2 separate regions of the Homo sapiens genome follow, and region 1 is linked to region 2. A link means that fine-mapping ties the variant in region 2 to the expression of a gene that starts in the linked region. Tissue or cell type: whole blood. Region 2 holds a variant in brackets; the other region holds the start of a gene. All regions are shown on one strand. Distances are between the middles of the regions.

Region 1 (4,124 bases), 22 kb after region 2:
CTAAATCACTGCCCTGTGCTCTCTGTGATCAGAAGCTGCAGTGGGGGCTGAGAAGAGCCAAGCTGAGTCTGATGCCTACCAGGGAAGAAGGCAGGGGCCGAGGGCTAAGCAAGTTGGCAATGAGCTCTCAGATGTGTTAGTCCCTGGCTCTGCCCAATCCCTGTCCCTGCTCTAGCACTATTCCTAGGCTTGGCCCCATCCACACACCTGATCCCCACCCTGGCTTGGCCCAGGCTCCAGCTCAAAGCCACCTCACTAAGTACACAGACAGCCTGCTTGCTGACATCTGCCTCCTTCTCTTCATAGGTCTCCTGGGCTCCCCAAGCTAAGTGCTTGCCTCATTCCCTAGTTTCTGGGAGGGCTTTGCCTATAGCCAGATGTCCAACCTCTGGCTGGGCAAGGACAGATGGAATAAATCAGCTCTGGCTCTACACATGGCTGAGGACATCCCCACAAGAGCTGGCACCTGTAGCTCCGAGGAGAGATACTCAATACCAATTCCTAGCTCTACTCTCCCTTTACCCCCAGTACACACCATTCACCATGGGAAACACTGCTGAAGGCATTGTCTTCTTTGTAAGAATGCAACAAACATTTCTACTTTAAGAGTCTTGTTGATCAAGCAGACTGAAGTATGTGCAAGGCCAACGGCTGGTTGGTTCCCTTTCTCTCCTCCTTGATCCTCTAAGTTCTCTCCATTTGACAGCGACTCTGCTCCCGCTCCCTAGTGTTCTAACTTCTCTACATCTCTCTAATCATGCACCTGTTTTTTATTTATTTTTTGGGGGGGAGGACTCTGTCATCTGTCTCTTGCTTTCTTTCTTATACCGTCTTTGATCTTCACGTCAGTGCCTTGATTTCGAAACATTAGACGGAAAGTGAAAAATGCAGCGAGTCGTTGTGGTATTTGGGCTGCACATCTCCGACTCAGCTCTCGATCACGTGAATGGCTGACTGCATGTTTTACTTTGTATTTTGGTGTCATGAAGAAGCAGTTTCGGTCCTTGCTCTCTGTCTCTGCTCTTGGTCCTTCCAACTCCCGGCTCTTTCATTCTGTCTCTGGGGTTTACTTTTCTTAGTTGCAGAAACCTTGCCGGAGAACTGTCTGGGTTAGGAGCCTGAACTGGGTTAGAAGCCTGAACTGGCTGGGTTAGGAGGAGAGAGGCAGGGGGCAGTGGGAGTGAGTTGGGGGCTACAGGTGGAGCAAGGGGGATCAGATCGGGGTGATCAGTGAGGGATGAAGGTGAGATGGGAGAAGGACAGACAGAGGTTAGTTGAAGAGTCGACTAAGAGAAGGGAGAGTCAGGAGATCAAAATTATTCCCCAAGGGGACAAGAAGTCCCATCATTTGAACCTAAACAGCAAAAAACCTAGAGCTAAACTTACGGCTCATCTAGAAGTGGGTGGATGATGAGGTTTGCGGGTTGGGGGTTTGGCCTTGCGCATACTTCTCTATCCTTCCCAATCCGTCAGTTCCTGTCAATTTCAGCCTCTTCCACTTCCACAACAGGTGAGCCTGAGATCCAGGTTTGCCAGAGTAAGGGAGCACCCGGGCACCGCTCTGCCAGAGGGCCAGCCAGCCAGGGCTCTCCACTGGATGGAGAACTTTAATGGAGCGGGCGCGGAGAGGGCAGGGCAGGGAAGGGCCGCGTCCCGGAGCCTTACCATGAGCGTCTGAGCCAAGACGGAGGCTGAGGAGCGCCGCCAGCAGCACTACGAGGCACGGCAGCATCCTGGGCGCGCCGCATCGTCCGGGGCCGGAGCGGAGCCGGCCTGCGCGCCTCCAGCTACCCTTGGGCTGGGACTGACAGCTCCGCCGCCCGCTCCGCCAGCGCCCCGCAGGGCTGACGTCAGCGGGGCGAGGCCTACAGACGCCCCGCCCCCGAGGCCGCGGACGGGGAACCACTGTCCCACAGGGCTACCGCCTGGGGCAACCCGAGGCTGTCCTGGGGCGCTAGCGGGCTCCGGCCACCCCTCCCTTTCCTTCCCTCTGGGCCTCCAGTGCCTTCGGATCAAAGTGGTCCGGGTAGCCCGGCCGGCCGTGGGTACGTGTGTGTGGGTGTGTGCGCGCGCGCGTGTGTGCATGTGCTGGGAAGCAGGTGGCCAGGCACAGCCTCGGCCCTGAGTGCGGAAGGTGGGGTGAGGGCGTCCGAGCCGCTTTTGCCTGGCGTGCCGGCTTGGCGTTAAGGATGTGGCCGCGGCCGCTCCGAATGGGGAGGAGGTAGTTGCAGGCCCTTGAGGGCAAAGGCGCCAGGACGCCGGTGTGAGTCTTGGCGTTGCCCCAGGGCCTCCCCGTCTGGGGGTCTGAGGACACCGATGGATGAATACTGAGTAGTCCCCTACCTAATTGTTGGAGGGGGGTCCACAACTAAGCAGTTTATGCAGACCTGCCCCCAAAGTCCCAGGAAGCTGAGAGACCCAAGAAAGAGGCTTTTAACCAGCAGCTCAGCAGCTGAGCCTCAAACCGCGATTTTTAAAATTTTTTTATCTATTTTTTTTTTTTACAGTCTCGCTCTGTCGCCCAAGCTGGAATGCAGTGGCGTGATCTCGGATCACTGCAACCTTCGTCTCCCAGGTTCAAGCGATTCTCCTGCCTCAGCCTTCCGAGTAGCTGGCATTACAGGCATGTGCCACCACGCCTGGGCTAATTTTTGTATTTTTAGTAGAGACGGGGTTTCACCATGTTGGCCAGGCTGGTCTCGAACTCCTGACCTCAGGTGATCCACCCGCCTCAGCCTCCCAAAGTGCTGGGATTACAGGGGTGAGCCACCGCGCCCAGCCTTAAACCGTGTTTTAAACTTAGTTTCTCTTCTTTCCTTTTTTCTCTTCCTCCTCTGGGCCTCAAGATATAATTTTGAGACAAACTGCATGTATGTTACCTCTCATCTTAAAACACAGCCTCAGGACGTGCTGTGACCTCCACTCCCTTTCCTGTCCCATACTGTACTCCCATGCCTTACGCACGTTTATTTACCTACGTGCTTGTTAAGCACACGCTATGCTCTTACCTGGTCATATATTTCCTTAGATGCCTCAGGAGCTGCGTCCTGATAGGGACCAGGCACCTCCGGAATTCTCTCTCCAACAAAAGCTTACTTCAGGAGTTGAACATATACCCTGCTGAAGAGTAACTAATTTATAACCTGGCAGGATCCACGATTGCACCAGCCCCTCCACCAAATAAGACGATAATTAAAGAGGACCACTGGAGCAAGTCACACCACCTGGTACCTCCTAACCTCCCCCTTGCCTTTTCTGCATTTCAGATCCTTTCTTAAAAAACCCCTGCGTTCCCCCCATGAATTGAAGAGTGGAATTGTTTGCTGCTCTTCCCCTGCTAGCATGGCAGCTAGCAGATTTTCCTTTATTATCCATTCTTTCTACAAGCAGAGAGCAGCCAGATCCTTTTGCAGGTTACAGGCTGACACATCCAGTTTCTTCGAAAAAAACATTTAATAAGGACTTATAAACAGAAGCTACGTTTGTGTCTCCATGATTCACCCCCAGGACCAGGGCTTATAGACCACAGGGGAAGGGTGATTCAGAAAAGATGTGTAGGACAGTTGAAGTATGATAACATCAAGGTTGTTTGACCTAAGGGCCGGATTTACAGTAAGTGTTTGCACTTACACAAGGAGCAATTGATAAATTGGGAATCTCAGAGGTCTTCTGGGAGGCTCCAAAGCCAACACGGCCAAAACTGTGGATTAGCATCCAACATGGAGTTGCTTTAGCCTCCATAAGGACTTCTCCCAGTCTCTTCTGGGTTTCCCTTGCTTGCTTGAAATCTGATATTCAGACCAATTTTTGTGTTGGGTAATAGCACTACTGGAGTGCTGGGTAACACCTCAGCACATCCTCAGTCTCTCGCACCTCTGTGTCACTTGGCTCATCTGAGGCCATCTCCAGGTGAACCAAATATGTGAGGATATGAGAGACAGACTGTCCATCACTTTTTCTTGGAGGCTGACACCTGCTTCAAAGTGTGTGTGTGTGTGTGTGTGTGTGTGTGTGTGTGTGTGTGCACTTGCAGTCATATATGATTTGCAGTGGCCAGTCTGTGGATTTGGATTTCATTGTGGTGTGGAGAACGTTGTCTGTTTGCCAAGTGCATATGTGTGTTT
Region 2 (4,292 bases):
AGGCGAAGAGGGAGCTTTTCTCTCCTCTAAGTTCTCCTTGAAGTCTTAATGATCTCGTCCCATGCCAGTGGCATTGGAGGGGGCCAGGTGCCAGGAGCCAGGAGGGCAGTGTCTCTGGTGCCCCTCTCTCTGCTTCAGGAGTCTGAGAAACTCAAAGTAGGAGCAGATGGGAGGATCATTATTATCTTTTTAAAAACTGCTTAGTGATCAAAAGGAGGAGCAGAGACTGTTTGCACAGTTCACAGTCCACAGAACACAAAGCCTTTTCTTGCATGGTACTGCATTTTGAGCCTTATGTCAAGCTTGAGACACAGGGATTATTCTTGGTCCCGTTTTACATATGGGGGCACTTGGGTCAGAAAAGCAGCATGCTTTACCCAAGTTCCACAACTGGCTACTGGCTGCACCAGAGCTGAGCAGAGTCTGCACCCTCACGGATGTAGCTGACATCAGGGCGTAAGGATGAGAACTGAATGTAGTATAAGGTCTGGTTCTGACCCTGCCCTGATGTGCTGTGTGGTCATGGGCTACTTACTCCACCTCTTTGGACATCTATTTCAGCATCTGGAATCAAAAGATTGGACTATTTTTCCAAGGCTTCTCCTGGTTCTTACCTGTAGGAGAGCAAAGACCTCATCTACTTTTTTTTTTTTTTTTTTTAAAGCGTCTGCATTCTCAGTTCTTAGCGTATAGCCTGGTCCATAGTAGGTGCTCAGTAAACAATTAAAAGATGCAAGTACAAAGTGTCAATATATCTTTCTAATTTAGGAGATGGCAGTTGAAAGGTGATGGCTGCAGTTCCCTAGTGGTCTAGGATTCTAAGCATTACTTAGCCTTTCCTTGACTCTGCGTGTGTCTGACCAGGTTCCAAGTCTGGCCCATTCCCAACCAACTTTACCTGTAGGGTGAAACGCTAACATTTGCTGAGCACATATCAGTGCAGGGCAGAGGCTTATGATGCGCGTCTTCATCCTCACAGCCTCACAGGTGAGGGAACAGAGGCCCAGAGTGCCGTGAAGTGATTTGTTCAAGGCCAAGCAAGAATCTATTTTCTTTATAGTCCTTTGTCACCCACTTCTAGCCTCAGTCCAAACTGGCAGCTATCCTAACATCCTTGGCCCCCAAGAACATACTCCTCCCTCCAGATGGTCTCTAATCTCTTTTTGGGGTCTCCTTGTGTGGTGAGAAGGGCGCTCAGGAGCCCAGTCCTCCCCAGGCCCCATCCTCAGCTCTGAGCTTCCCACTGACCCACTCCTCTTTCTTCCTTTTGTTTTTTTAGAACTTCCTTGACCTCCAAATCACCAAATTCTGCCCATTCTTCATGCCAGCTCAAATTTCCCTTCTCCAGGGAGACTTCTGTAAGACCCATGGATCTTGTGCTCTGCTGATTTTAAATACAGATAGTCTCAGGCCCCCATAACTTTATTATTGATTATTTCTTTGCATTCATTTATTCACGCTGCTTCCATAACATGCCAGGAACTATGCTAGGCACCATGGGGGCATCCAGTCTCCCTGAAATTAACCTTGCTTTCTCCTATTTGATGGGCATTTCTTGCAGGCAGAATCAGGTTTTAAACCTCTTCTGAGTTCTCCACGGTACTTTGCATGGCTCTGGCCATAGCCAGGAACTTCTCAGGAAATTGTGTTGAAATCTCTCTTCAGAACATCTTGGGCATTGCTTCATCCCTGGTGCAATCCTAGGTGCTCTGAAAACCAAAACTTTTGATCTCTCCCCATCCTTGACTACATTCAACCTTGTGCTCATGATCAGTTACATTTCTGAGAGAGAGCACACAGATGACGATTTTTCTATCTTAAAGGATAACCTAAGGAATGATCAAAACCGTGACAAGGCTGGCAGGTGAAGAGGGAGCTTTTCTCTCCTCTAGGTTCTTCTTCAAATCTTAATGGTCTTGTCCCATGCCAGTGGCATTGGAGGGGGCCTGGTGCCAGGAGCCAGGAGGCCAGAGTCTCTGGTGCTCCACTCTCTGCTCCAGGGGTCTGAGAAACTCAAAGTGGGAGCAGATGGGAGGATCATTATTATATTTCTAAAAACTGCTTAGTGATCTAAAACCATCTAGAAGCCGTGATATTTAAACAGATCTGGTACAAAACAGGAAGCCAGTGGCCTGGTGAATTCTCACACTTGGAGACCAGAAGTGAAAATGTTCTGCCTGCCCAGAGTAGCAGCAGGCCAGCAAAACAACAGGTGTGGCCGGGCACGGTGGCTCACGCCTGTAATCCTAGCACTTTGGGAAGCCAAGGCGGGTGGATCACTTGAGGTCAGGAGTTCAAGATCAGCCTGGCCAACATAGTGAAAACCCATCTCTGCTAAAACTACAAAAATTAGCCGAGCGTGGTGGCTCGTGCCTATAATCCTAGCTACTAGGGAGGCTGAGGCAAGGGAATTGCTTGAATCTGGGAGGCAGATGTTGCAGAGAGCTGAGATTGTGCCACTGGACTCCAGCCTGGAGACAGAGCAAGACTGTCAAAAGAAAAAAAAAAAAAGAAAGCAAGAAGTTGAAAAACAAATCAAGA[A/G]AAAACAGGTTGGGCAGTGCTGGAAGTGAGTTTTTATCTGCAGAGCTATTGGGTTGGTCTACTCCTCCCTAATCAGGAGGATGCGGTTTCTCATGATAAGCAGAGAACCACTGGGGGGATGATGGTGAGCAGTATAAGAAGTCACATCTTCGGCCGGGCACAGTGGCTCACACCTATAATCCCAGCACTTTGGGAGGCCAAGGCGGGTGGATCACAAGGTCAAGAGTTTGAGACCATCCTGGCCAACATGGTGAAACCCTGTCTCTACTAAAAATACAAAAGTTAGCTGGGCATGGTGGTGCCTGACTGTAGCCCCCACTATTTGGGAGGCTGAGGCAGGGGAATCTCTTGAACCCAGGAGGCAGAGGTTGCAGTGAGCCAAGATTGCACCACTGCACTCCAGCCTGGCAACAGAGCGAGTCTCAGTCTCAAAAAAAAAAAGAAGTTACATCTTCTATTCTAGTCCCATTTCCTCCCCTTGTAGCTGGTGAGCGCAAGCTCTCTGAGCCCCTGATGCTGTGTTTGTTTGTATAAGGCTGCCATTGGACCTGAGGACTCTGAGGTCCCTTCCAGCTGGGAGGCTATTTCAGAGCTCAGGTAACTCGGAATAATCCTTTTTCACCCACTTCTAGCCTCAGTCCAAACTGGCAGCTACTCTGACATCTTTGGCCCCCAAGAACCTACTTCTCCCTCCAGATGGACTCTAATCAGTTCCACAGTGCTGGGTGGGGGTGGGGAGTGGAGAAGGAGGTGGGTGGAGACACCCCTGTGTGTGTGTGCGTGTGCGTGTGTGTGTGTATGTACTACACAACTGAGCCAAGAAGGAGAAGGATCATGTCTGATGCCTTTTGTATTTCCAGAGGGCCTGCCCATGACAGAGGCTCAATGAATGTTTGCCCAAAGAGTGAATGCATGTTGAATGTTTTCATGGTCCTTTGCCTTGTCTCTTGACCACATCCCCTTGCCTTCCCATTTGGTCTATAGCCCTGAGTTCCTACAACACCCAAGAGTTGTAGGGTGAAAATTGCAGGGAAGGGATCCAGCATGATATGACTCAGCTAGGAAGATGACAAGCCTGAAGATAAAATTTAAAATAATAGATATATACAGGCTGCTTTTCTTTAGGCTCAGTCTAAATGCCTCCCAAGTATCTGTTCAGCCACAAGCTACCATCACCACTGTTGCCTTCTCATGTTTGGATACTATGCTTCTTCAAGTTCCTTACCACGAATGGAAGAAATTCATTCATCCATGCACTCATTTATTCATCAAAATTTATTGAGTATTGAGCACCCATTGCGATGTGTTAGGCATTGATTGGGTGCAAAGGACACAGAGAGAAATCAGAGGGGTTTTTGCTGCCCAGGAGCCTACAGTCAGTACTGCATGTAGCACACTCAGGGGTAGCAATGTGCCCAGGGCACTAATTAAAGAAGTCAACTTGAAGACTACTGTGTCCATTTCACAGATGAGAAGACTGAGGCCCAGAACTGACATGACAGTTTCATGTGGAGAGAACAGAAAGTGGCTGAGCATTCTTTCTACTCCCTGGGGCTGTTGCCTCTTCCTCTTTGCCTTTGGAGCATTTCCAGACCAACAAGCTTGCTGCGGCAGTCCATCCGGCCATTCGCATATTATAGCATACCATGTGCGGGGTGTCCCTGGAGCTGTCAGTGCTGCAGAAGCAGTTGGAAGTGGAGTCAGTGAGTCTTTCAATTCTTTCAAAAAGTTGATTGTGAAGGATGGGAGAG

The links. PIP is the estimated chance that this variant, and not a neighbour inherited with it, causes the effect. A credible set is the group of variants that fine-mapping cannot tell apart.
Region 1: it holds the start of IL10RA, and the variant in region 2 is the best candidate, but not a certain one, in a credible set for the expression of IL10RA in whole blood (TOPMed, PIP 0.60).

What each region holds. Positions count from the first base shown.
Region 1 is chr11:117,984,076-117,988,199 of GRCh38, reverse strand. IL10RA (interleukin 10 receptor subunit alpha) reads right to left here and starts at 1,806. Exons shown (of 7, transcript NM_001558.4): 1 at 1,666-1,806. The coding sequence starts at 1,732. RefSeq lists enhancers at 629-928, 2,319-2,378 and silencers at 1,729-2,008, 2,029-2,128.
Region 2 is chr11:118,006,094-118,010,385 of GRCh38, reverse strand. It overlaps SMIM35 (small integral membrane protein 35), which reads left to right. Exons shown (of 5, transcript NM_001394165.1): 5 at 4,010-4,292. Among named protein-coding and RNA genes, the nearest start is that of IL10RA, 22 kb to the right of the region's middle. RefSeq lists a silencer at 421-470. The variant A/G (reference allele first, on the strand shown) is at 2,542.